7 linked regions of the Homo sapiens genome follow. The protein of the gene in region 2 interacts with the protein of the main gene of each other region in a pairwise test. Each region holds a gene or a part of one and is shown on either strand. Other genes may lie near its edges. The genes, in order: ERGIC1, EHHADH, TPP2, SFT2D1, cystathionine beta-synthase, EMP1 and SLC14A2.

Region 1 (4,164 bases), on a different chromosome or scaffold from region 2:
TTTATTTTTTCTTTTTTTGGGAGGAGTCTTACTCTTTCTCCCAGGCTGGAGTGCAGTGGCATGATACCAGCTCACTGCAATCTCCACCTCCCAGGTTCAAGTGATTCTCCTGCCTCAGCCTCCTGAGTAGCTGGGATCACAGGTGCCTGCCACCACGCCCGGCTAATTTTTGTATTTTTAGTAGAGACAGAGTTTCACCATGTTGGCAAGGCTGGTCTCAAACTTCTGACCTCAAGCAGTTCGCCCGCTTCAGCCTCCCAAAGTGCTGGGATTACAGGAGTGAGCCACCGCACCTGGCCTGTACCATTATTTGATCAACATCTGTCTTCCCCCCTAGACTGGAAGCTCCAGGTGGGCAGGGACCATGTTTGTCCTCACCAAGGTATGCAAGGCCTGGACACGGTAGGTACTTTGTAAATATTTGTTGACTAGATGGATGGACAGAAAATGAATGGATGGATGGGCCCTAAGCTAAGTTCTGTACATTTTTTTAAAAAAATCAGATTTCCACCCCACTAATGACTAAACTTGGGACTGTAGTTTCTGTGTCCTTCTGTTTTGCCCCTGCACGTGGCAATGCGAGACCGCTGCTCCTCTCCCCTCCACCTGCCTCGGTCTGGGCCCTTCCCTCACCTCCCTGCCTATAGTCTTGCCTCCTGGGTCCATCTTCCTCATTGCAGATGGGTGCTCTGAGTCACCAACCAGACCTTCAGTCTCCACCTTCCTCAGTCTACCACGGGTCTCTCGCACCCCACACACCCCACCTGCCGGCTCCCATTTCAGGCAAGTGCTCTGGGCCCTCTCAGCTGCCAAGCGAGCCCTTGTGCCCTGGACCATCTCGGCACAGAACATGCCGTGTCACATACGCTTACTGATCCATTTTTCTGAAAGTAACCTTGAGGGTCTTTCACATGAAAACCACCAGCTGGGCGCTCTAGGAGAGGGGTGATGTTTGAGACGCCCCCTGCCTAGGACCCATTTCCCTGTTCTGTTCCTGGTGAAACCCTTCTTACCCTTCCAGGCTTGGCTTAGATGTCACCTTAACGGTAACTCTTCCTAGTGCCCAGAGAGGGCAGAGGGCACTGGGTGACAGAGCCCCTGAAGGCCCACCCCCGGCCATGCCATCTCGAGTGTCCCCTGCTCACCTGTAGCGTGTCCCCAAAGGAGAGCTTGTGGATGACATGCGTCATGTCTGGGTTCTGTGGCTGGGCTGTGGCACTGTGTGTGGACACGTGGAAGTTGCCGGGGACCTGGGGGAGAAATGTGAGTTTCAGGAGTTTGGTTGACTTCTCCAGGGGGCGGAACATTGGGGCCTCACCCTGTGTGATCCAGGGAGGACACTGGAATCAGGCAGATCTGGGTTTGGATCCTGCTTGTATCATTTTCAACTGTGCAAAGGAGTCACCCCATCTCTCTGGGCCTCAGGCTCCTCATCTGCAGAATGGGGGCACTACCATAGCTTCCGAGGGGGCTGCCAGGACTATCTGGTGAGAGGGTGCATGTGAAGTGCCCATCTGGGCGACGGGCACAAAGCCAGGACTCATGGCAGCTGCTCCCCCTCCAGCTCTGTGGATTCTGGGCGGCTGACCCCACAGTCAGCTGGGGGATGACCTTTGAGCTTGCAGACTAATGGGGATTCCTCAGACTCCAAACCCCTATCATTTCCTACCCAAGTTTGCCCCAGTGCCCTAGACGGGGGATCCCTGATGGACAGACTGTGGTAGCCTCATCTCTTCCCTGGGTCTCAAGCCCTCGCAGAGCCAAGCCAGCAAGAGGTGCTGGATGAGTATTTACAGAACAAAGGATGCTGGTGACAACCATGTGGCAGGAGCCACTGCAGCTTCTCCTTGTTTCAGCACGAAGTCCCTCCTCCTCCCCCTCCTCCCCCTCCTCCTCCCAGATGCTTAGACTAGAACCCTTAGTATGATCCTGGAACCCTCCTCCTCCTCCCAGATGCTCAGACTAGAACCCTTGGTATGATCCTGGAACCCTCCTCCCTCCTCCCAGATGCTCAGACTAGAACCCTTGGTATGATCCTGGAACCCTCCTCCTCCTCCTCCTCCCAGATGCTCAGACTAGAACCCTTGGTATGATCCTGGAACCCTCCTCCTCCTCCTCCTCCCAGATGCTCAGACTAGAACCCTTGGTATGATCCTGGAACCCTCCTCCTCCTCCTCCTCCTAGATGCTCAGACTAGAACCCTTGGTATGATCCTGGAACCCCCCTTTCTCACTCCCGACGTCCCATCCATCAGCTGAAACCCTGTTAGCTCCACCTTCCAAACACACCTGGCGCCTGACCTCTTCTCTGCTGCCCTGGTCCAAGGTCGTCTCTTCATGGACAACAATGGCAGGCTCCTCCCTGGGCTCCCAGCTTCCATGTTCCCCACAGCCTGGGCCTTTTCCCAATAATGACTGTTAAGATCTTTTTAAACCCTACATCAGATCTCATCACTCCTCTGCCCAGAACCCTCCACGGCTTCTATTCTCTCAGAGTCCAGGTCCATGTCCTCGTGGTGGCCCACAGGCCACATCTGGCCGCTGGCCAAGCATCGTGTCCCCACCGCTTGGCCTCCTGCTGCTGTGTCCTCTGCTGCTTCCTGTCTGGTCTCCTGCCGTGCCGGGAACAGCATCCAGTGTGGCCCCATTTTAGGCCTTTGTGCCTGCACCCCTTCCTGGGACCCTCTTCCACATGGCCCTCCCTCGGACCCTCAGGGCCCAACAGAGAGGCCCTCCACGTCCACCTGTGCAAAAGAGCACCCTGGCCCCCATTCCCCATCCCCTTACCTGCTACAGCCTCTGGGATCACCTGCCATCTCATACCCATCCTGTTCTCGTCTGCCTCCTCCCATTAGCATGTCCACGCCCTGCTGTGCTCCCCAGACTCCGACACATAGCAGGTGCTCAATAGACACTTTTTGAATGAATGAATGACTAAACAAACAACACTGAATCCTTTGACTTTGTCATCTGATAATTCCCATTTTACAGAAAAGAAAATGGAGGCTCAGAGCAGTGAAGAAACTTGCTAAGGTCACATGTCGAGAGCTGCAGTCTCAGCTCACGTCTGTTGGACGCACTGCTCCCTCCTCTGATGCCTGGATGCCATCTACCTCCGCAGCCTGGGCTGATGGCCACATGGCGCCAGTCCTTCAGGAGATGCCGGAACTGGGGAGATGAGCAGACAAGAATCTGGCCTTGGCCAAGCCCCTGTGACACAGACTTGGAACAGACAATGAGACTCTGTGGGATCCACCCTGGCCCAGAGGAATTTGCAGACCATGGGGGTTACAGGGAAGGCCCCCGGCTCAATTGAGGGTGCAGGCTGTATTCAGGGAGGGCTTCCCAGGGGGAAGGACATCCTGTGTTAAGGCTCTGAAGATGAGTCTGCATTACTCAGGAAGAGAGCGAAAGGCATCTGGGCAGAGGGAACAGCATGAACAGGTGCAGAGGACAGAAACTTCCCAGCATGTGGGCTGTCTAAGGAACTAAGAGTCTGGTATTATTGAACTCCAAATGAGACGGAGGTGGCGGTGCTGGCAGCAGCAGGAAACAAAGAGGCACAAGGGAGGAGTTGGGGCTGTTTATCAAAGGTCCCCAGATGCCACACTGAAAAACTCGGGGGTTACCTTATTCCAGCCCAATGAAGAAGACTGTGCGAGCTGTGTCCGAGGAGGGAATATAGCTTATCGTGCAGCAGCCCATCAAAGTCTGATTTTGTAAGCATGTCTGTTTCAAACACAAAGTTGGGGACTTCCTGCAGGAATATTCCTACTTCAGCAGGGCCCGAGCTTGTGGCTGACAGGGGAGGCATCAAGCTGACAGCCTGTAGCCTCGGCCTCAGCAAACTCGCAGTGGAGCGAGCTGCAGGCTACAGTGGAGAAGGGACACTTGCTGGGTCAGGAGTGGAGCAGAAACAAAGGCGTGGCAAGATCTCCCTCGAGGGACAGCATCGCCTGCTTCAGGGACCCAATAACCCATAGTAGAGCGGTTGCTCTGAGTTCTACACTTGGCCCCAAGCCCAGCCCCACTTCCTAGCTGGGGAGCCTTAGGCGAGGTCAGTAACCACTCCATGCCTCAGTTTCTCCATCAGCGAAATGGGCGTAAAGCCAGAAGATTACTGGGAGGATTCATTGAGGTGATGCATACAAAGCAGCCCGCAGCT
Region 2 (3,127 bases):
CCACACCCGGCTAATTTTGTGTATTTTTAGTAGAGGTGGGGCTTCACCGTTTTAGCCAGGATGGTCTCGATCTCCTGACCTCATGATCCACCTGCCTTGGCCTCCCAAAGTGCTGGGATTACAGGCGTGAGTCACTGCGCCTGGTCGGGTCATGATACTTTTTAGAATATGATGTGAGATATGGTACCTTTTCCAAGAAATGTACTCAGATACATGTACACAAACTTTATCATAACATTTCAGGGGTTATTGACTCATAAAACCTATTCATAGACCCTCTAGTTTCAAAATCTCAATCTAGGCCAAGCGTGGTGGCTCACGCCTGTAATCCCAGCACTTTGGGAGGCCGAGGCAGGTGGATCATGACGTCAGGAGATTGAGATCATCCTGGCTAACATGGTGAAACCCTGTCTCTACTGAAACATACAAAAAATTAGGCAGGCGTGGTGGCGGGCACCTGTAGTCCCAGCTACTCAGGAGGCTGAGGCAGGAGAATGGTGTGAACCTGGGAGGCAGAGCTTTCAGCGTGCTGAGATAGCGCCACTGCACTCCAGCCTGGGCGACAGAGCAAGACTCCAGTCAGAAAAAAACAAAAACAAAAACAAAAAAACAAAAAAAACCCCCTTAATCTAGAGGCCACTGTAGGGTGAAAATAAGTTGTAAGAACTCAAAATTAATTCCAGGTTTGAAGAAAAAGTTAGTGGGTTTTTTTTAACACTGATTTGAAAGCAAGTCACTTTGGAGACAAAATTACTACTTTCAGGAATCATTTTTATTGATGTCTTTAATTTCACAAACCAAATTATATAAAATTAAGTAGTACACATTTCAAACATAATAATTGTGCTCTGTACAATTCAAGGCACACTTGGATTTTTTGTTGGTTTTTTGTTTGCTTTTTAACAACGGAAAACTTATACTCCATTCAAGATTTTTCCATCAGAACTTTAATCATTTTATTTGGGTTCACAGGTGAAAATATTGTGAAAGTTCATTTACACCACAATGAAGGATAACATCTTCAGCCCCATTTATTTACTAACAACTTTATTGAGATATAATTCACATACCATATAATTCACCCACTTAAAATATACAACTCAATGGTTTTTAATATATTGTTATGTGACCATTACCACAATAAGTTTAGACCATTTTCATGAACCATAAAGAAATCCTGTACCCATTAGATGAATCCTGTACTCCCCATTCATCACCCCCAATTCTAGCCTTAGGCAACCACTAATGTACGGAAAGTATTTTTTGTAGAGACAGGGTTTTGCTATGTTGCCCAGGCTGGTCTCAAATTTCTGGCCTCAAACAATCCTCCTGCCTCAGCCTCCCAAAGTGCTGGGATTACAGGTGTGAGCCACTGTGCCTGGCCCTTTATTTCTTTTTATGGCTGAATAATATAGTCCATTGTATGGATATACCAGATTTGGTTTATCTATTCATTAGTTCATAGACATTTGGGTTGTATTCAGCTTTTGGCCATTATGAATAATTCTGCTATAAATATTTGTGTACAAGTTTTTGTATTGACCAGCCCCTTAATTTTTAACTACACAAGGCAAAAAGTAAAAAGAGAAGAACTCTTACAACAAAATCATACAAAATATGTTTTGCAACAATTTTAGATTTTTCAAGATTCAACCATTTCCATATGTAACATCACAGAGGCTTGTCATGACAGGAAAACTGGTGTCATTACTCTATCACAGAATTGGGAAATCCTAGAAGGTTAGATGTTCTCTAAGACCCTTCTTACACTAAGTTAACGACTTACTACTTTCTATTATTTCTCCATAAACAGAAGAGGAAAGACCAGAAGAGGAAAGGCTTGCCACACTAACCTAAGTTCCCTGTGCTGGTTTGAAGTACTCAGTTCCCTTACCAATTTCCAACTGTCTTTTTCCTACAACTTTAATGTTTGTTGAGTGTATGTATGATTCATAAGATTTCTGATCAATACTATGTGTGTGACATTGAAAGGAGTCAAAATGAATGTATGACTTAGCTGCATTTATCATTTATTAATTGATGACACATTTATCCAATGATAAAAGCATTTGAGAATCTCAACTTATGCCTGAGCCTCTTTCATTAGCTATTATGGTATTATATTCACACAAGTTCATGCATTGAATTTATCTGATAAGGACAGATTCAGAGGCATAGGAAGCACATTCCTAAAGATTTGACCATTAGAGTCGTTACACAGAAGATTCTAATGATTATTTATTTTGCTTTGTATTTCAGAACAATCTTACTTTGGATTTTTGATTTAATTTCACTGAAATTCAGTCAGCATTACCTGATGCTAGCATGTGAGGCATAATCTGGAAGACTGAATCACAATTTACTGCTAGGGGAGCCTGCCAAGCTTTGCCATTCTTTCAGGGGAGGGTTTCCCTGAGAAGCCAGTTTTTTTAGATAGTCACTTGGCTCCAGTTGGGGAATATCAGGGTTCTGCCTGTAATATTTCTGCAATTTCTCTAGAACTGTGGGCAACCCAACTGTGGAAGCATAGAACATGGGCCCGCCCTTGTGCCTTGGCCATCCATATCCATGTAAATAGACAACATCAATGTGCTCTGGGCTAGCAGCTATCCCTTCTCCCAAGATACGGAATGCTTCATTGATAAGTGAATATAAGCAGCGTTCAAGGATCTCATCCTGGCTAATGGTACGTGGTTCAATGTGATGGGTTTTTCTATACCGTGATAGGAATTTGGAAAGCCAGGGATCAGGTTTGTGAATCCTACCCAATGGCTTGTCATATTGATACCAACCCTTACCTGTCTTCTGGCCAAATCGTCCTAATTCACAGAGCACATCAGGAATTGGGCAGTACCTCCTATTACCCCTTTTTCGGGCAGGAGTTCCTGGAAGCAATGTAGGTCCAGTAAGACCTTGCCCCTTTCTAGATTTCCAGCCCACATCCAACCCAGCAAGATCAGACACTCTAAAAGGTCCCATTTTAAAACCAAACTCTTCCAGCACCTGATCTACCTCCTCTGGTTTGCTGCCTTCTTCTAACAAGAAATATGCCTGATTGTAGTAAGGATTCAACATTCGATTCCCCACAAATCCAAAACAGTTGCCTACAACGACTCCAATCTTTTTA
Region 3 (4,164 bases), on a different chromosome or scaffold from region 2:
CGTGGCTCATAAAACCAGGTGTGCAGAGAGCTCTCAGAACCTAGTCAGTTGCTAAGAATACAAAATCTAGTGTTATGACAATATTTCTAATTATTTGAAATAAAACTAAGACTGTTAAATTCTCTTAACTACTTGCATTCTAGATCATTTGATAATTTTTATTTAAAAAAACAAATTATTTTCAATACCAACCTAAACCAATCATAAATCAGTGCCATTTATCACTAAACAAGTACCCAATTCAGTATTAATTAACCATAGATTTGTATTCTTTAATTTACCAGTGCACATTTTACCAGAGCCTGGAGCTCTACAAGTCCCAGGGGCCCTATGAGAATGGGACCCCAGGAATGCTGAACACAGCAACTCTGACTCCACCCTCTAGAAGTACTGTCAAGTGTGAGCGTAATCCCAACGAAGACAAGCTATGTACCAAGTACTATAAAATCCCTAATCCTTACAACAGACTAACGACTATATTTACAGTTGAAACAGAAGTCCAGAAAATTTAGAAACCTGCCCCCAGGTAACCATTAGCGTATGGCAGAGTGTGGATCCAAACCCAGACTTCTCAATTTCCAAAGCCCGTGGCCTTGCCGCTACTCTGTGCTGCCTCCCTCTAATCCAGTTCTCTTAACTGCAATATCTTGGACTAGATGCTCTCAAGGCCTCTGGAAGCAGGGTCCTTGTCTAAGTAGCTCACCACCTTAGCCCACTGAAAAGGGCCTGGCACAGATGGTACAGAAAAATATGCTTAATGAATGAGTGTAGTACAACCCGATTATCCTCAGAAGCCTCTCACTGCTGCAATAGCTCCATTATAAACCAGTGTGCAAATTAACAGGCTATATTGGGTGCTGTTCAATTCACTGCTTTAGCTCTCAGCTTTTGCTATTATTTTGCCTTTACCTAATTACAAAAAACAAGAAAAGTCTGGTATTTCCTGTGATACCAGGTGACAAACAGATGGACAGCATACAGATAGATGACCAGAAAATGGTATGGGGAACCAAATACAACCAGTTATTCCCAAACCAAGTCATACATGTGTGATTTCAATATTTCATTTTCAATAAAGTCTCAGATGTAAATATATCTGTACTTTCATACAAGTACAAAAAACACACTCCTAAGTAAAATACAAGCCATTTTTACTAATGACACCTATCTACCTTATAGGGTTCTGACGGGACTAGACAAGATAATCTCTGTAAAGTGCTTAGCAGAGGGGCCAAATCCAAGAAGTATCAACAATGCTGGCTACTAATTTAAATTGGGTGACACTTTCTTGACTGCCCGTATTTGCTTCCTTCTATCAATGGGAGTGAGCTCTGACAACTGACATACCCTTCTATACTGACTGCTAAATTGTAAATTTAGGACACACAACTTGTGAAGGAAAATATGGTACACCCACAGCTCTTGTAAAAAAGAATGACATGAGCACTCTCACAGGACTATAACATGTTAATTCAAGAGCTTTGTGTTAGGCAATCATTTACTCTCAAAATTTCAGAGACACTGAAGTGAAAATCTTCTATAAACAGAGCTTCAAAGATTAAAGCTCTATTTCTAAAATTCTGAGAGTTTAACAGTTTGAGGTTTAAGCAACAGCTGCATTGTTTAAACTGATTTGTAGTATTTTAAAAATTAGGCCGGGCACAGTTGCTCATGCCTGTAATCCCAGCACTTTGGGAGGACGAGGCGAGTGTATCACGAGGTCAAGAGATCGAGACCATCCTAGCCAACATGGTGAAACCTCGTGTCTACTAAAAATACAAAAAATAGCCTGGCGTGGTAGCACACGCCTGCTAGTCCAAGCTACTCGGGAGGCTGAGGAAGGAGAATCGTTTGAACTGGGGAGGTGGAGGTTGCAGTGAGCCGAGATCATGCCACTGCACTCCAGCCTGGCGACAGAGTGAGACTCTGTCTCAAAAAAAAAAAAAAAAAAAAAAAAAAAATTATTACCAGGTAAGGCATTATTCTAAACTAAGCTCAAACCTTAAATATTAAAAACATCTTAAGATGGCTTAATTTCCTGTATGGGCCAATGCAAAATTGTACTAGATCTTAAAAACGTTTTGAACTTTACAGAAAGTCTAAGGTACCCAAATACATATATTAGTACCAGGGAAATACATGCTACAGATAAACGAACCTCATACAGCTATAGTCATTAGAACGTAAACAGAGATAAGCGGTCACACAGATTTTAATTTTACCTACCAGCCCATGTTGCACCCTCAGGAACCTCAATAAAATGCCTTCGAATTTGACCAGGTTTAAAGTGTACATCTGTAAAGGCTAGATCATAATGTGATGATTCATTTACTCTGAAAATTAATAAAAGTAATTAAATGTATATATTTATTATAAGACCACAGATACTCTAGATTTCATTGGATAAACGCAAAATAACAATTCATTGGAAATAAACACAGGGACTTAGAAGCTGGTTACAAAACAGTAGGTACGATATTGTTCAATTTTTGCAGTAGGTTAGCAGAGATAACCTCTGAATAGCAGAGTATAGATGATTCTACTTTTTGCCTATTTTATGATTTGTAAGATACATTCACACACACTATTAAAAAAGCATTCTCTTTTTTGTTAAAGGCATTCTACAACATTCACAGAATTTTCCAATTACCAGATTCCAAACTACAGTGAGTCCTAGATATTAAAATCAATGATAAAGTTTTATGTCACTGGTATTATAGCTATGAGACTTGTGTTAAATTAAGCTCCTCCTGTAGCTTCAAAACACTCCCATGATGTAAAACAGTAAAGAAAGGCAAACTACTTTCAAAGCACTTTTGTAAGAAATCAATGAAATAAAGTTCAAATGCATAACTACCCACCACGGAAACAAATTTTATGCTAGAGACAAATTCTTGTCAGTAGGACAAACGGTTAAATGAGTGCCTACTACATGAGGCCCTGTTATTAGGAGCTAGAAACGTAACAAAGAAGAAAATATGATTCTTTAACCTAGACAATCTAGCATGGAGAGAATCATCATCAGAGACATTTAACATAAGATGCTCCAGATAGACAAGAAGAGTTACGGAGCCTGGGAAGCTTCCTGAAGGAGATGGCGTGGCAGCTGACTCCTGAAGGTCTTACACATTACCTGGTCTAAATTACTACTGGACTTCGAGGGAATATACGGCTGAGAATTTAACTGTTGCACAATTTTTCCACATGTATACCACTTTTTAAATTTATTCTCCTCAATTTCATCCTGTGTTTCTCATGGGCTGAGATCTATTGCATACTTAATATTTACCAGAGTAACAGAACTGTTAGTTTAGAATTTCCACTTGGTTTCCAGTACTCTCACAATCCCAATCTCACCTTCATCCACTAGATAATTTATTTTATACATCCTGTATAACAGTAGTCTCTGTGCCTTCGGTGGGCTCACAGTGAAAGAGTGTAAGTTAAATAAAAAATTACAATATATTGGCTAAAGTCTGTCCAGGGGCACGTAAAATGTGCCACGAAGCAGAAAGAAGGGACTCCCTTCACCCAGGGATGACCAGGAATGCACCTGGTCATTAACTGAAGAGACAGGAAATTGAAACCAAGTTATCAGCTGTGCACATGCACAAATCCTGAGAATCCTCAAGTGCCAAAATCAGTGAGTTGGCCAAAATGTGTAATTTGGTGTACGGAATGACAGGAAACACTGGCTAGGGCTATAATTGTGAGGGAGCATTGTTTGCTATTTTAAGGAGCTTGAACTTGACCTTTGGAGGTGCCACTGATATACTTTAAGCAGGAAGTAATATAATCTGCTGATTTTTCCTTGGTTCCAGAGGAATAAGATGGGAAGTTAAGAGTTTCTTAACTTCTGCTTCTACAGTAGATAACTAGAAAAGTGGAAGCATTAAGAGAAGAGAGTAAATCCCAAAAACGACAGAGACAAAAAGGGCAGGAATGGAGGGGAGTGAAGTAATATTGTCAAATACTACAGTGGGATCGGGTCAGACGAAGCCTGAGTTATCCTCTGAACTGGGCAATGCAGAGCTCAGAGTGACTGTGGTGGAAATAGTTTTGATGCAGAGGTAGGGCAGATGCCAGGTGCCATCAGTTACTCTCAGAGCACACAAGAGTCAGTATGGCTGACTACATGACACCTAAAAATGCTAGCTGGGAGCA
Region 4 (3,823 bases), on a different chromosome or scaffold from region 2:
AAAAATACTATTTAAACCCTTTTTTTTTGGTTGATTTTAATTTCCTAAAAGGAAATAAACATACTTTTTTTTTTTTTTTTTTTTTTGAGACAGAGTCTCACTGTGTCGCCAGGCTGGAGTGCAGTGGCACCATCTCGGCTCACTGTAATCTCTGCCTCCTGGGTTCAAGATTCCCCTGCCTCAGCCTCCTAAGTAGCTGGGACTACAGGCGCGTACTGCCATGCCCGGCTAATTTTTTTGTGTATTTTAGTAGAGACGGGATTTCACCATGTTGGCCAGGATGGTCTCAATCTCCTGACTTTGTGATCCTACCGCCTCAGCCTCCCAAAGTGCTGGGATTACAACCGTGAGCCACCGCGCCCGGCAGTAAACATGTTTTCAATGAGATGAATAGCAGCTTGCCATGATAATGTCTGTATGGAAACATTTTGGCGACATGGAGCAGCTCTGTGGGGAGTATCCTCCCGCCCTGCTGCCTGGCGTGCACTAGGGAATGTGGATGAGATTCTGGACCCTTCCATGGCTTTAGGAGTTCAGAAAATAGGACACAGAGACTCCAGGAAAACAAATTCTACTTAAGAAAAGGAAGTTACGGCTGGGTGCGGTGGCTCACACCTGTAATCCTAGCACTTTGGGAGGCCAAGGTGGGCAGATCACTTGAGGTCAGGAGTTCAAGACCAGCCTGGCCAACATGGCAAAACCTCGTTTCTACTAAAAAATACAAAATTAGCTGGGTGTGGTGTGGGCGCCTGTAATCCCAGCTACTTGGGAGGCTGAGGTGGGAGAATCACTTGAACCCAGGAGGCAGAGGTTGCAGTGAGCCAAGATCGTGCCACTGCACTCCAGCCTTGGTGACAGAGCCAGACTCCATCTCAATAAAAAAGGAAGTTACTGGGAAAATGAGGGCTTACACATAAATGCTTATTTTTGGTCAGCAAAAACATTTTAATTGTATGTCAAGAGGTAACCGGCATTTTAAAATATTTTTCCAGAGAAATGTATTTAGCCGTGGAGGAGAAAACAAAACTAGTTCCAATTTTAAATCTGATAGATTTAGAAAAAGATTCTGGTGAGGCACAGCTTTGCCTGTTTGTGAAATTCAAAGATATGTTATATATTTAAAAACAGCAAAATTGTCTTTAATACGAACAGTGAAGGAAATTGGTAGAAATTTTATTTTTATTCCATTTCAAATGTATGATTCTTTCTGATAGATACTTACAAGGAGAAAAAGCAAAACAAAGTTAGCTACAGGTGAGAAAGCTGCTTAACAGGAGTGTGCAAGGGTAATTTACCATGCATAGGAACTTTAGAGCAAGGAGACCTCCAATACTTCTTGGTGCGGAGGAAAGGACCTCTAGACGTGATGTCCCATACAAGAGGCTCTGAAGAGATGGCAGGACTTCAAGAACATGACCAGCCTCTCCAGACACAGGATCCCACACTCGAGAGCAATAAGCAATGTACAGATTTTGCCTATAAGAATTTTATTAGTGGATATTTTTTATGGCCTAGGTAAAAGCTTTTTTAATGAATGAAGTATCAAGTAATAACAGTTTTGGAAGAAAATATGAAAGGTCACACTTCAATCTTCTTTTAATTCTGAGGATTCAGTTATAAACATTACAGTTTTGAAACTCAGTTCATTAGTTCTTTTTTTTTTTTGAGATGGAGTCTCATTTTGTCACCCAGGCTGGAGTACAATGGCGTGATCTCTGCTCACTGCAACCTCCACCTCCCAAGTTCAAGAGTTTCTCCTGGCTCAGCCTCCTGAGTAGCTGGGATTACAGGCACGTGCTGCCGCTGCCACGCCCAGCTAATTTTTGTGTTTTTTAGTAGAGATGGGGTTTCACCATGTTGGCCAGGCTGGTCTTGAACTCCTGACCTCAAGTGATCCACCTGCCTTACAGGCGTGAGCCACCTTGCCTGGCCTAGTTCTTTTTAAAAATTAAATCTTTGGGCTGGGCTTGGTGGCTCATCCCTGTAATCCCAGCATTTTGGGAGGCTGAGACGGGTGGATGGCTTGAGCGCAGGAGTTTGAGACCAGCTTGGGCATCATAGCAAGACCCTATCTCTATTAAAAAAAAAAAAAAAAAAATTAGTGTAGTGGTGTGCCCTATAGTCCCAGCTCCTTGGGAGGCTGAGGTGGGAGGATCTGCTCACGCCACTGCACTTATCCTGGAAGACAGAGTGAGAACCTGTCTCAAAAGGAAAAAAAAAGAAAAAAGTTAGATCTTTTGTTAGGTTATTTTTGGTATTTAAACTTATTTCTTTGATTGAGATCAGTGTATATGCCAGTAAAAATTTCTTAAGATAAATACCATGTCAAAAATCAGCAAAATGTTTTCAAATCTTAGCTCTTAATCTTAAATGATACTGAACAAAGTTTTTATTAATCAAAAAGTGTGTTGGAGCATCCATTGAGTTCTGTTAAAAAAGGTGATTTAGCAGGAACATTTTGCGCAACTTTGCTTTTGAGGAATATTATATTCTGTTTTTTTCCCTCTCTTTTCCACCAGGGATGCAGTTATTAAATGCTGTTCTTCTCTCCTAAGTTGAAAATCAGAAACTTGTGGAAAAGAGCACTTGAATGTTGGTACTCTATGTTTGGTGAAGTTTGCTTTTCCCCATAAAACACTCCAGGAACAACTGACGTGACAGTTGAAGACCGTTTTGTACTAAGTCTCATTTTGTATACTGGTAAAAACTACATGCTTGATTAAACCATTAAATGCTTGTAACTTTAAATTCATTATGTGTCATTAATATACTTTTCCAAAGATAAGATTTTTAATCACTGCCAGTTGTAAATTATTTTTAGCCAATTTTTAAATCTTTTCAAAGCAGCTTTGAAATGTGAATATTTAAAGGTAGACCTGTGCTGCAAGATAATTAAACTTTTTTGCTTTTAAAAAATGTCTGCATTTTTAAGATTTTTTTTACTTTAAATGTGAAACTTATTTTAAGCTAAAAATTGCTTATTATATGTAATAAAAATAATATATAAATCTTTACAATTTTGAAATAAACCCATCCTTGGAAAAATAACATTTTCTGAATCAAATTTATAATATTTTAAGTGACTCAATTCAATAATATTTAGTTTAGGCACTATACAGTCTCTCTGTAGAAAAATGAGGAAGATACAGTCTCTCCCCTAAATAATACTGTTAAATACAAATTGTGAGAGATAATGGGACTGACAGCAGAGCCCATTCCAGGAAGTGCAGGGGGAGGAGGTGAGGCGGCATTGACTGTGAGGGTGTCAGGAGAAGTCAGGCCACTGGACAGTAGTGGCAGCAGGAAGCTACCTTCACCCCAGGCTGGAGGAGAAGCAGAGAGGGCGGAGAACTAGCCAGCGCCCTCCTCCTCCCTGCAAGTCTCCCACTGGCTGTCCTGGTCTCCTCAGTTGCCAGGGAGAGGCAGATAGGCGGGTGCCAGCATGATGTGGTGCCAGCAGGAGGGAAGGCGGCTCTATGTCTGTCCAGGGTAGGGAGAGTTAATAAAGAGCATACAACAGGGTAATGGGAGCAGCATTTTATGCACAGTCAGCTTAGAGGAGAGCTGAGGGGGATGTCCTTGAGGGGCAGCAGGCAGATGGGCAGAAGGGATCTTGTGTAGCACTGGGTGGTGGTGGCCGGACCTTGTTCAGGTCATCAGGTGTGGCTGAAATCCAGGAGTGGGCTGGGGTGGGGAGGGAGACTAAGCTGGCAGGGAGCCAGGGTCAGGCCTTAGGACCCTGGAAGTCAGGCACGCGCTTGGAAAAGAAGGTGCAGGAAAAGAGTGAGTTCTGGTGAGTGGGCGGACACTGTGCTTGGTGCTC
Region 5 (4,164 bases), on a different chromosome or scaffold from region 2:
CTTGATTAGAAACAATAAGTGCCATGAGAGCTTCAGCCTTGTTCTAGAAACACATTCTGGAAGGCAGCTCGAAGCCCCGCCCCATGGCCTCCTGCCCTCACCTGAGCAGGTGACCACACTGGGCAGGCAGACAACACCTGAGGCTCGTGGCCGCCGCAGTGACACTCCTCAGAACTGCTGTCTTACACATGCAGGTCGGTGGCTGACTGAGGGTGCGCCCCCAGCCATCCCCAGTGCCCCCTAGCCATCTCTGCCTTCCCCATACCCCCGTGCCCGCCACCCACTCACCGCACAGCAGCCCCTCTTGCGCGATCAGCATGCGGGCAAAGGTGAACGCCTCCTCATCGTTGCTCTTGAACCACTTGTCCACCACCTGAGCAGGACCCCACCACAGCCCGTCAGCGTGGGAGCCGCTCCCACGTGACCAAGAGGGTGAACAGCCTCATGGTGGACCCCGTGTCTAGGCGGTAGGACCCCAGAGGTCTCACCCCAGCCTCTCCCCCTGGGATCGGCACGTCTGCAGACTTTCCAGTTCCAACACGTTTTGCAGACAGCAAAACTGCCCGCCAGCCCCACTGAGCATCCGTGTGACCCACACCGGCCCTTCGGTCTCTGCTCTCCCTCAGGCCAAAGTCAGCTTTTTGGCTCTTAACAGACTTTTCCGGGGCCTTAATTTTCACACGTTTTCCCTGCTCCCTGCCTGTGCCACCTGGGCTACATCCCTTGGTGAGGTCAGGCCACGTGTGCGGACATCGTCCCCCAGTCTACTTTGTCTCGACCTTCGAGACCAGCTTCTCACCATGCGTGCGGGGCTTGCCCTTCTGTTTCAGTGGAGAAGCTGGTTGGGGCCCAGGGTCAGCCAGGCTCCCCAGTGTGAGGGTGAGTTACAGGCTGCACCGGCACTGTGGCCGGGCTCTGGACTCGACCTACCGTCCTGTCCAGCACCGTGGGGATGAAGTCGTAGCCGATCCCTTCCACCTCGTAGGTTGTCTGCTCCGTCTGGTTCAGCTCCTCCGGCTCTGCGAGGATGGACCCTTCGGGATCCACCCCAATGATCTGCAGAGGGCGCGGCTTCAGGGCTCAAGGCCAGCAAAAGCCCCGCCTGGACATGCCTCGATATTCTATTATGGGAGTGGCCAATACCGCCGTTAACAACTGCCTGTTAATGATCTGCCTGTGGGTGGTGGCCTGTTCCCAGCCTCAGAGGCAGGATGAGAAACCCAAGAACCCAGGCTCCAAGTATTAAAGCGGTAATGACCTAAATGTTCAGTGCAGGGCGCTCAGAAGTAAAGGCAGGTGCCTGGGAGGAACTGACCTCCCCGGGGTGCTTCTCGGAGCGGGGCCCCCAGGACAGTCCAGACAGACCACCCTGCGGCGGAGCAGCAGAGCCTTTGGGGACAAAGGGCATTGCTGGGCAGTGACGTCTTTTTCAAGGGCAAGCAACAGGGAGAGAACGCCCTTGTCTCATCAGCGGGACCTTTCTAGGCACCCGTCCTCAGACCTGCTCTTAACCCCGAGTCCAGGAACCCTCTCCCAACTCCCACAAGCCCCAGTTGAGGGGCAGACTCAGGACCAGAGGACTTAGAGCTCCTGGCTGATCCTCAGAGGCCCCCAGTTGGAACTCCGACCCCCCACTCAGTGCAGGAAGGTTCTCCAAGACACTGGCCGGTGAGCGAGCACCCAGCCCCAGCTCCTTCGGGTCACGAGCTGCTGGTCCCTTATGTGTCAAGCACCCTTGTCTTCCCAAACACCTCCCAGGCAGCGCAGAAATACCGCGGGAGACAGCGTGCTGAGCAGACCGTGAGGAATGACAGCTTTCAGCTCAGAAGCCGGGGCCACTCCGCACTGCCCCTCTCCGGCCCGGCCACACCACTCACCCTGCATCCAGGACACTTCTCCTTCAGCTTCCTGGCAATGCCCGTGATGGTGCCGCCCGTGCCCACTGAAGCCACCAGCATGTCCAGCTTCCCTGGTGGACGGATAACATTCTTGGGTCCCTGCCTGGCCAGCCCATCACTCATAGTAATAATCATTGAAAACACACTCAGCCCAAACCACGGTGGGTAACCAAAAAGTTCAAAAGAAAAACTTCTTCTCCAGTTGGAGCAGCCCTCGTTGCTGCCCTTGGTCTGTGAAAGCCTCAGAAACAGGCAGCCTGGGGCACCCCAGCCCAGTCTTTGCTCAGTGACACTCGACCCCTAAAACCCCCATTTGGCTGGATGCAGAAAGACAGGACCCTGTCCGGGGGGTGCAGGCGCTGAGGGCGGGCAGAGGGAGGCTGTGAATTAACCACCTCCGTGGGCTGTTGGATGTTTGCGTGGTGTGAGTGAGTTAACTGAATTTACACAGGAAATGGAATCAGTCTTTTAGGCTTCAGCGCAGAAACTCGCTGGGCGCTCACACTGCTGGCCGCCAGCGCGGGCATCTGGTGGAGAAGTCACAGCAGGGAAAGACTCAGCGAGACGGAGCAGCTTGGGCACCCATGCTGAGACAGGACTGTTTTTGCCAAATGAGAGAGTTCTCACACATAAAGCCCAAACAACCAAATGCCTGGACCTTACAGCCCGGCTCCTGGGCACGGACTGAGGGTGTACTCCAGCCCATGCCAACACCGGATTCCCAATAGGAAGCCAGGGCGCCAACCTCTTGGCAACTTATCTCTAAAGGGATCTCTTGGGAAAACCTCAGTACCAACCCCCACAGGCCTTGGCACCGAGTCCCTGGAAAAGGGCCCAAGGAGCCGGCCTCATGCTTGTAACAGAGAGTGAGCTCATCGCAGATGTCACCAGCTCTGTTCTGCAGATGAATTTGATGCCGAGTCAGGGCATGATCCCAAATGAAGTCCAAGCTGTGAGCCCAGCACCAGCCTGGGCCCTGAACAGACTCGCTGTCTGCATTATCTGCAGGAGGAGCCCCTGCAGACCTGCAGAGATTGCTGGGTAAACAAATACAGCCATGCCCTGTGTTTGCTATTACAGGTAAACCACAGGCGGAGGCCAAGAGGGCACAACGGAGGGAGGAAATTGTTCTAGAGAAATGCTCTAGAAAAGCATTTCACAGAGGGAACATTTGAGCTGGGTTCTGAAGGGTGAATAGGAGTTCACCAAGGAGAGGGCAAGAGATGTGTACACTCCCAGGCAGCCAGGGATAAATGCAATCAAGATGGACAGAGGGACGCACCATCACACTGCTGCAGGATCTCATCAGCGGTGGTGTCATAGTGAGCCAGGGGGTTGCTGGCGTTGCGGTACTGCATAGAAAGAGAGCAGAGCCCGTGAGCTGACCCCTGACACCTCAGTCACCCCCACATCCCTGACCGAGACCCTCCTAGGGAATGCCTGTCTCCAGGCCCCAGGTGCCTCACCTGGTCTAGGATGTGAGAATTGGGGATTTCGTTCTTCAGCCGCCAGGCCACCCCCACGTGTGACTCCGGGGAGTCGAACCTGGCATTGGTGGGCGTCCTCACAATCTCAGCCCCCAGTGCCCGCAGCACGTCCACCTGCAGGAGGGAAAGCGGTGGCCTGCACCTTCCGCCTGGCCCAGGCACCCTCATCCCCTGCCCTATGACCCCGCCCCTGGCCACGCCCACCCACCTTCTCGGAGCTCATCTTCTCTGGCATCACGATGATGCAGCGATAGCCCCTCACTGCCGCAGCCAGGGCCAGCCCGATCCCTGAGGGCACACAGAGGGTGAGAGGGGCCCAGTGACCCCCCAAGCCCTGCCCCGCCCCTGCCTGGGACACAGGGGCACACCCCGATGCCGGTTCCCTTAGGGCCCAGGGAAGAGGGTTCTGTGGGATTCCAAAATTGCCCAACATGGCTGCTTCTGCCTTCAAGTGCAGGGGGAGAGAGGCTGCCAGAGGCAGAAATAAAAGGTACACGTCAAGGAGGAGGAGGCAGCGGCGCAGGACAGGAGATCTGGTTCCTCCAGGCCCAGCCGGGTACACAGGCACAGGAAGAGCAGACTCCGGGTGCTCGTCTTGTGTGCCAGGCACTGCCAGGTGCCATCGCCCCGAGAGCATCGGCACTGGCCCCGAATGCTGGTCAAAGGAAGCTAGGTTGGGACACAGGCCGGCAGCGGGTGCAAGATGCCAGGGAGCAGGCGGCCAGGCGGGCCAGCACATGCGGCTGCAGCTCATCCATCCCCCCCGGGTCCCGGCAGGC
Region 6 (4,164 bases), on a different chromosome or scaffold from region 2:
AGATGATAGAGAGAATCATGAAGGCCTGCACTGTCTTGAGGGCATCTGTAGACACAGGACGAGGAGAACAAGGGCATGAGGTCACTCCAGGGGCTGAACATTCCCTGACCACACCTATTGTCAGCACTGGGTCAATATCTTTATATATACCTTCACTGGCATATGACAGGCTGTCACTGCAGCTAATGTTGGTACAGTTTTTCCAAAGACCTACTGATGCATCTACCGTATTGGAAACCAACCAGACCTGAAACCAGAAGGAAAGAAAATGTTAATTGAAAGCTGGCCCTCTGATTTAAAAATAAAATAACAAATCAGCTTGCATCGGGATCAGATTTTAATAAAGACATTCTATTTAGCTATAACTATGGCTATGCAGCTTATCTGTGGGCGGAAATAAGGTCCGATTAAAACTGAAGTTCACAAAGTTGCCAAGAGAAGAGACACAGAAGAATGTGAAACCCAGAAAGAAATCACCTAGCCCTCTTTGGGCTCCACATTCTTCACGACTTAACAAAAATGGAAGTAACTCAACCACAGTGGTTTAAAATTCTAAGGTTCTGAGAAACAGAAGTCCAGGATGAGGAAACTGGCTTAGGTATGTGCAGTTCATATACTCTAACAAGATTGTTTCATTTAAGTCCCTGGTTAACCAGGAAAAAAGTGAAATGTCCAACTGGAAACAATTAAGAAACATAAGACCTACTGGGAAAATAACAATGAATCTAGTGGTTAATAAGCCACTTTCATCTAAACAGAAGGATCAAACTTGACTGTCACAACATGCAAAGTAATTTGATAGTAAAATACTACAGCAAGTGCTTTCCTGTAGGGGCTACTAAAAGCTGAAGGGTGACCTGAATGGATTCCCCCAGACTGATCATGGTGCCGCCATCCCTTCCTGCCTGGCCCAAGAAAAGGAATTATCCTTCTGGAAGAGAAAACAAGTGCAGTGTCCTGTCTACACACACACAAATGCACACACTGGAAAGGTGGGGCCGGGAACATGCATCACCTACGCCAATCCCTGCTCTTCATTCAATAAACAACTGTGTGCCTAGCCTTATATTAGGGGCTGGTAATTCACAGATACGCAGCGCTTTGGCGCTCATTAATACACTTTGAAGAAGCTTATCAGATTTATCTGGATAGATATAGGAGTTGACATATAGAATGGCTAAATTACAAAACAAGGAGGTCACGTGGGCGGGGGTTGTCTTATCACAGTTATTCTTAATTAGCCTTGCTTATGATCACACCCACTAATGTTTGCAAAGCTCTTCTATCTGAACTTTAAAACTCACTTATACTTTAACTGTGATAGGGACCTAAACAGATTCTGAAACCATGGTTTGCCTGCCTAGTGATTGGTGGCCTTGGTTTTTAGGTCCAAGGAGCTGGCTTTTTTCTGAGAAAAGCACAAGTAAAAGCAAATTGGGCGCTGTAAGCCACCACTAGAGGTCAGAGTAGCCCAGGGTTCAGAGAGAAAAGACACTACCTCCATTTTTTTTTTCTCGTTTTGTCTGAGTTAGTTAATTCAGTGGCACTGGGTTAATCTTGCAAAACTCCACTTTCACATGCTACTCTTTGCTCAAAATTTGAATTTGTCAGTCTGGCATCCTCTTCTTCCCATCTATCCTTCTAATCAAGCTTCTCAGAAGGAGGGGAAGTTCGGCTCCAGCCACATAGGTGTGTGTCCTCCTTATCCTCTGACCAAAGCTTGTCCTTCCTACATATGCTCCTTTGCTAGCACTCCCACCTGAATGCATCCCTATGATCCTTCCACCTTCCCTCTTTCACTAAGAGAAACCTCAGCCATCTACCACTCCTCCAGGTTCACCTCAAGCTCCACTCACCCCTGCTGCTGGGAAGGCTCTTCTAGAGACCGAAGAAGCTGCACTAGATCCTCCAGCCCTTAACCACCTACAGCTCTGGCAGGATTACTCCTGTGGACATTCACTTTTATCCTCCTGTTATTTAATTGTTTGAAGGGCAAGCGTGTGTTTATTTTGTTTTCCCACAACTGAGCTGTAAGTTCATGAAGGGCAAGGGCTGTGGCTTAAACTTCTTTTGTGCACTTGATGTAAATATTCGAATGATTTCTCAATGAATGAATGAACAAAAGAACATTACTCACATTGGCAATGGTGCTAACAAATAGCATAATAACAGTAGCGATGTGGACCACAAAGATACCAGCCAGCAATACCAACATGTTGGCTCTTTTTTTTTTGGTAACTTGTGAGCAAAGAGAGTTCTGAAAAGAAAAAGAAAGGGACAAAAACGGTTACTGTCAGATTCAATAAGACGACTCAGCTTTCCCACACGTGTGGGCTATCTGCTAACATGAGGAAGAGCTGCACTAAAAACCATCACAATCTAATCATAAATTCCTGAAAACACCCCTGTAACCTAGTTCTGATTTGCCTAAGTGCCTATTCATCCAGTTATACATACCTACATGGAAACAGAATTTGGTTTCTTCTTGGGTATTTACATATTCATTTCTCTAATACATTCTATTTCAAAAAAGGAACAAGAACATTTTATGATAACTGTTCGTATTTTATTTTGTTTGTGTTTTAGAGGTTAAAAATAGGACTTTGATTTTCAAAGAAGTAGGCCTTTATAATTTCCAGGTCTCTGAACAATGTCATATAAATGTCCATTTTCCACTAGGAAAATGTCCATGCTTTCATCAAATTGCTCACCCAGCACTTTTAATAGAAGTAAATGCCTTCTGAAGAATAGCAGCTATTACTCAATGCCCATATACTGAATAGGCTACTAATATGATCCTGGGCGAGATATAAAATGTGAGAGGCACAATTCTATTATTATAATGCTGTTTGGTTTTCAATAATTATAACAACCTAATTACAGTTTAATGGTCTGGTCACCCTGTGACTGAGCATTTCAGACTAGTATTACTACACCTGAGCCTTTGGGCTCTGTGTGCCTCATGGCAGGAAGCCTGCCATTGGTCTGGGCAGAGAGTCATATTTTCCACAGCTCAATGTGATGGTTCTGGGGGCTTTAAAAGTAATGCAACTTGAGATAGCACCAAATGTGCCTTCTCCTTGTACATGACATTTACACAAATTCCAATCCTTCAGGACTCAATACAGAAGACAGGCAAATGCATAAATCACAGGGTGGGAGGATTGGGAACTAATATCGATTAAGAATGTGCATGGATAAACAAAAGCTTTCAGCCATAATCACAGCAGAGAAGGGAGCCCATTGATCATAAAGCCTAGGAAATAAAGGAAGTGTGAAGGATACACATGGGGGAGGCTATTCTGATTTATGTCAGCTACAGAAGGAGAGCTTTGTCATGCCTAAGACTGTCACAAAGCAGTGCAGGCTCAGAGGGACATCAAAAGGAAAGGGCTTGAGGTTATTCACACCCTAGACAGAATGGATGTGTGGATGCCCCAACCAAGGGAGGAGATGGCCAGGCGCATCCTGCAATTGTTCCACTGCCCTCTCTCACTCCACCTAATTTAATTGATGCTTTGAATGTGCTTGAGGCACTTTCATGCCACATCAGGTATTTATTAGAGAGCACTGATACTATAATTCCAACACTTCACATGCCTTTTATCTCCTCTCACTGTCTTTATCAGGCAACCAAAAATCTAGAGTGATCTAATATACATCAGGGTGCCTTGCTCTCTGCAAGCAAGGAATGAGAGGCAGACAATGGCTTCCACCATTCTCCCTGACCGTCTCCAACAGCCCCTTCCCAATCTGGCCACTTCCTTCCAACCCAGGCTGTTTTTTAGGAATGTGTCCAACTTAACTGTGAATGCAAAAATTATGACGTTTATCCTGCCTCTTCAGGGGAGAGGTTGGAGCTTTCATGTCTGCTATTAGTAATCCCCCCACACATTCAAATTCATTTTTGCTTTTCTCAGGTTCTAGCACACCTCCCCAATTTTCTGCTTGACTTAAATGCACAGTAAAAAGAGATTTTTGAATCAGACAGAGGATGAATTAGAATCATATCCAGTTATTTGACCGCTCATCTGTTTCCTCATTTAGAAAGTGGAAGTCGCAATGTCAATTGCAAAGGGAAATGTGAGGATGAATTCAGATTGTTTATGTAAAACACCTAGTGTCTGACACATGGCAGCTACTAATAATGGGGTTGCTTTAGCT
Region 7 (4,164 bases), on a different chromosome or scaffold from region 2:
ATCTTCACAATGTGACTGTCTTCATTGGAAGACCGGAGATCCTTTTAGGAGAAACCAACCAGACATCAAATGATACAGCTTTCTGAGAGCAGGGACATTTGGGGATAGAGGAGGGTGGCAGGTTTTTTGATAAAAATAAAGGATCATGAGACAAAGGGTGGAACACATGCCCATTGTCTGCGGCTGCATAGAGTGCCCCGTACAAGCCTGTTCTTCCCAGGACCATGCACCTTCTTCACAGCAGGATTTCTTCACCTTTGTGCCATGGATCTCTTTTGGCAGTTTAATGAAGCCCATGAGCTTCTTTTCAGAATAATGTTTGTAAATGCAAAGATCAGATAAATAGGACGGCAAACCAAGCCAATTATACTGAAATGCAGTTATAATCTTACTAAAAATTAAGATACACATGTATGCACAGCAGATCCAATACCTTCTGTAATTTCAAAGTAGTGATGAGTAAAGATATGGGACCTCCTCATCGCAAGTCAGGACAGCTCTGGAAGGCCATCCCAGCAGTCTTGAGTCCCTCTCTACTGCAGCAGTGGCCAGCCAGTCTACCTCTGTGCTACCACCGAGGATGCTAATGGCCTGCATTTCAACAAAGGCCTTCCCTTTGGAGACAGTAGGGTAGTTCAAGGGAGCAGGTTTAAGGGGAAAGATTTTAGAGACTGATTGAAAGACTGGTGAGTGAGTGTCTGTATTCTGTACTTGTCCTTAAAATCATGTCTCATGAAGAGCCACATTATCTAAGGCCAGGTAGGACCCACCATGGGTGTCACCATGTACTGACAGTGGCACTTCCTCAGTGTGCTAAGTTCACTGGGAAGGTGGGAAAGCGGCATCTTTTGCCCCCACTTTTCCCATCCCCTCCCTCCCAGGAAACATCCTAGGAGGGACACTTCTCACCTTTTCTTCAGGCATTTCCAGGAGGGGCAGAGCTGGGTGAGTATCCGGGGATGTCGAGGGCCAGCTCGGGCTGGTAAACTCTGCCTCGTAGAGTTTGTATCTGCTGGAAAGTGGCTCTGGCAGGAGAGGACTGCTGTGGGGGTCAGACATTCCTTCGGGTCACAGCCACTCTTCTATCGATGGACTAGACGGAAGGAAAGGGAAAGAGCTAGTGAGTCAGGACGGGGCCCAGAGGGACTTGGCTGAGGCTGGACTCAGACCTCAGGTCTGTCCTGGGGGTTGGACAGTGACACACGTGGGATCTACAGCTTGTGCTGTAGAGTTGAGGACATTTCTCTACCTCATTACCTTTCAAAATCCTCCCATTCTTCCGCGTCCAGAAGAATGTCCATTTGGCCGATGAAGATATCCCTGACCACTGAGTCAGAATGGAAGTCTCTCTTTTTCTCTTGATCACTGAGTGTTTTTTCTCTGCCTTTCATATTGCCTGCTGTGCCGTCCTATTGTGGTAGTTAGTGGTACACGTATGTTCCCCTTGATACGTACACACAGATCCAGTACTGATTGGAGGTGGGGGGTGTCTAAGAGAAACTCTTCCTGAATTTCTATGGAGGCTACATTGCTTACAACTGATCTCCAGTCTTCCTTCTCTTCCCTCTACCATTTCCAGCTCCTTCCCTCTTTCCCTTCCCTAGGAACAGTAGGAAGCACTGGTCTATTCTTCCATGAGCTGTGTGCATCCCAGCTGAAGGAGCTTCCCTTCCACATGGGGCTCCTGTCCCCGTACCACCAGGGTCAGGGCTTATGCCATGACTTGCTTTTGGAACATCCTTTGCCTGAGGTCCTCAGTTTCCTGGTTTTGTCTGGCTTCCCCTTGGTAGTGCTGTACTCTCTCCTTCCCATACAGCCATTTGTGCATTTCTTCTCTAGCCTCCTCCAGCTCAGTTATATCTTTTTATTTATTTATTTGAGAGGTGGTTTTGGACCTGCATGCGGTCTCCTCTCAGTATGACCTAGAGCTTTCCCCATTGCTCCGTGCTCCATGCTGCATCCCTTCAGTGTAGGACCGTCTCTCTTAGGACAGGGATCACAGATCCCTAACATGGGTACTACCATTCCGTATACTCATCATTCCAGACACCGCTCAAGGATTGCAGGATTCCCTTCAAAAGGGGATAAAGTCCCCTATCTAATTTTGCATTAGTTCCATTTCGCTAGGCTATTACCTCTCCTCCTCCTAATGAGAGGAATTCTTACTCTCCACAATTTCTTCTGAGCACCACTCACCTTGCTTGGGCAGAAACCCTTCTTCTTTGAGGCTTATCTCAAATGGCCATACCATCCTCTCCAACTGCCCACTGCTGCGTTACTGACTCTCTGGTCACTCTGTCATTCAGAGAAGACTTGAAGTGCTCCTACTAATCATCTTCATCCCCCTCCAGTAACTTTAAGCAGCTTCGATGTCCAGGCAGATAACTCATCATCCTGTTCTCTGGCTTCTCAGATCCTTGTCCTTCTCATCTCCAGTGAACCTTTTCATCTCCCCTTTTCAGCAACTGATTTCCACAGTCCCAGCATGGGCTTAATATCACACACACTGGAAATCTCAAAAGTCAGATCTCTCCTCTGGCCACTTCCTCTTGCACATTTGGCTCACCTGCTCAGGTGACCCCTCTGACAGCCCTTCAGCTCCCACAACCACCTGTCTTCCCTTCCCTCCTTGACCAACTTAACTTCATGGCCCCTTATGTTACTTCCTCCAACTCTCTTGCACCTGTCTCCCTCCCTCATGCTTGTATGGTGAAATTCCAGCCGGGATAAACCCAAATGCCTAACTTTTCCATGCTTTCACCAAACAACTGAACATGGCTAGAGAACAAGGGTAATAACCGAGTAGATTGCTTTCACTGTAAGTTGGATTGCTGTCCTCAGGTGAACACTAGGTGCTTCCCTTTTCTCTCTTTAGTCCAGCTCAGTCTGCTTTCTGCTATGGCTGCCTTTGCTGTGGTCTCTAAGGCCTCCATGGCAAGTCCACTTTCAGTCCCCATCCCACCAGGCTGCTCAGTGGTGTTCTGAGAGTTGATCACCCTCTTTGACACACTCTTTGGCCGTTATATCTGCTCCCCTCTCTGGTTGCTCCTTCACACTCTCTTTTGGCGGCTCTTCTTCGTGTAACAGGAGCATTTTGCAGACCCCTGTTCCGGGCCCTCTTCTCAGCCCTGGTGCTCCTACCCAGGTGACGTCAGCCCTCAGCATGGCTTCGTATTCCATCTCCCTGCCGATGACCCTCAAAACTCACATTTCCAGCCCAGTTTTGAGCAGTGGATTAACAGATTTAGTTGTCTACTTTACACTCACATATAGACGTTCCAAGTGCCTTAATTTGCCAAAACAACTCATCATGTTGCCTTCCCAAATCCTATCCTCCCTCACAGGTGACCACCTAGGAAAAGTCATCTTCCCCTTCCAAGCCATTCCTTCAGAAAACTCAGGAGTCACACTTAATGCTCCCTTCTTCTTACTCTCTAAATTTAACAATTCTGTCTCTAAAAAATATGCCTTCACGTTCATGGTCACCAGTTAGCCACCATCACCTCTTACCACATCTTCAATGACTTTCATTTGGATATCCCTACTTTTTCCCAGGTTTCTCCTCAAAGCCATGCCCCGCAGGGAAGAGTTGCCATATTAATCTCATGTTGGATCCCTGCTTAAAGCCCATCAATGCTTTCAGATGGAAAACTACCTCTTTGACAGGGTGTGCAAGGCTCTGAGCTGCCACTGTGCTTTAGTGAGTCCCTTGCTTTCTGGCTCCATGACTCCAGGCCCCATGCTGGCCTCCTTTTAGTACTTGTAAGGTGTTGAACACTTTCCACCTCAGGGCCTCTGCAAGTGCTGGTTCATTGGCATGAAGACCTTTCCCTCACTCTTCCTGGTCAACCCCTACACTTCTGCCAGGCTTTGTCTCAATGATCACTTGCTAAATAAACCCTCGCAGATCCACCCACCATGTTCTCCTGTCACATACTCTCATGGGACCAGGTATTTTTCCTTATAGCAGATTTGTATATTTATTTGTATGGTTTCTATCTTCCCACCAGAACTTAGGTTTCATGAGGACGGTGGCCTCCTCTGTTCTGTCTATTGCTTTGACCCCAGCTCCTAGCACAGTGTGTGGCATGTAGTAAGGGTTCAATAAATAAATATGGAAGGAAGAGGTGGGGGGGAGGAAGCGACTGTGAGCAAGGTTACAGG

Evidence for each region.
Region 1: the proteins of EHHADH (region 2) and ERGIC1 interact in binary tests that used the Homo sapiens proteins (3 or more experiments, as listed by UniProt).
Region 3: the proteins of EHHADH (region 2) and TPP2 interact in binary tests that used the Homo sapiens proteins (3 or more experiments, as listed by UniProt).
Region 4: the proteins of EHHADH (region 2) and SFT2D1 interact in binary tests that used the Homo sapiens proteins (3 or more experiments, as listed by UniProt).
Region 5: the proteins of EHHADH (region 2) and cystathionine beta-synthase interact in binary tests that used the Homo sapiens proteins (3 or more experiments, as listed by UniProt).
Region 6: the proteins of EHHADH (region 2) and EMP1 interact in binary tests that used the Homo sapiens proteins (3 or more experiments, as listed by UniProt).
Region 7: the proteins of EHHADH (region 2) and SLC14A2 interact in binary tests that used the Homo sapiens proteins (3 or more experiments, as listed by UniProt).

The regions. Positions count from the first base shown.
Region 1 is NC_000005.10:172,921,091-172,925,254, reverse strand, and holds part of ERGIC1 (endoplasmic reticulum-Golgi intermediate compartment protein 1), read right to left. Parts: exon of another isoform or gene 3,729-4,164; coding exon of another isoform or gene 3,630-3,728; exon of another isoform or gene 3,168-3,629; coding exon of another isoform or gene 3,152-3,167; exon of another isoform or gene 2,953-3,151; intron 1,251-2,952; coding exon 1,146-1,250; intron 1-1,145. UniProt on the Homo sapiens protein: Possible role in transport between endoplasmic reticulum and Golgi.
Region 2 is NC_000003.12:185,189,874-185,193,000, forward strand, and holds the end of EHHADH (peroxisomal bifunctional enzyme), read right to left. Parts: coding exon 2,353-3,127; 3' UTR 751-2,352; downstream 1-750. UniProt on the Homo sapiens protein: Peroxisomal trifunctional enzyme possessing 2-enoyl-CoA hydratase, 3-hydroxyacyl-CoA dehydrogenase, and delta 3, delta 2-enoyl-CoA isomerase activities. Catalyzes two of the four reactions of the long chain fatty acids peroxisomal beta-oxidation pathway.
Region 3 is NC_000013.11:102,638,439-102,642,602, reverse strand, and holds part of TPP2 (tripeptidyl-peptidase 2), read right to left. Parts: intron 2,334-4,164; coding exon 2,227-2,333; intron 1-2,226. UniProt on the Homo sapiens protein: Cytosolic tripeptidyl-peptidase that releases N-terminal tripeptides from polypeptides and is a component of the proteolytic cascade acting downstream of the 26S proteasome in the ubiquitin-proteasome pathway.
Region 4 is NC_000006.12:166,318,953-166,322,775, reverse strand, and holds the end of SFT2D1 (vesicle transport protein SFT2A), read left to right. Parts: intron 1-2,519; coding exon 2,520-2,559; 3' UTR 2,560-3,048; downstream 3,049-3,823. UniProt on the Homo sapiens protein: May be involved in fusion of retrograde transport vesicles derived from an endocytic compartment with the Golgi complex.
Region 5 is NC_000021.9:6,453,701-6,457,864, forward strand, and holds part of cystathionine beta-synthase, read right to left. Parts: intron 3,674-4,164; coding exon 3,594-3,673; intron 3,500-3,593; coding exon 3,365-3,499; intron 3,251-3,364; coding exon 3,181-3,250; intron 1,970-3,180; coding exon 1,878-1,969; intron 1,057-1,877; coding exon 931-1,056; intron 374-930; coding exon 289-373; intron 1-288. UniProt on the Homo sapiens protein: Hydro-lyase catalyzing the first step of the transsulfuration pathway, where the hydroxyl group of L-serine is displaced by L-homocysteine in a beta-replacement reaction to form L-cystathionine, the precursor of L-cysteine.
Region 6 is NC_000012.12:13,209,562-13,213,725, reverse strand, and holds part of EMP1 (epithelial membrane protein 1), read right to left. Parts: intron 2,258-4,164; 5' UTR 2,216-2,257; coding exon 2,138-2,215; intron 248-2,137; coding exon 151-247; intron 46-150; coding exon 1-45.
Region 7 is NC_000018.10:45,621,560-45,625,723, reverse strand, and holds part of SLC14A2 (urea transporter 2), read right to left. Parts: intron 1,094-4,164; 5' UTR 1,060-1,093; coding exon 910-1,059; intron 42-909; coding exon 1-41.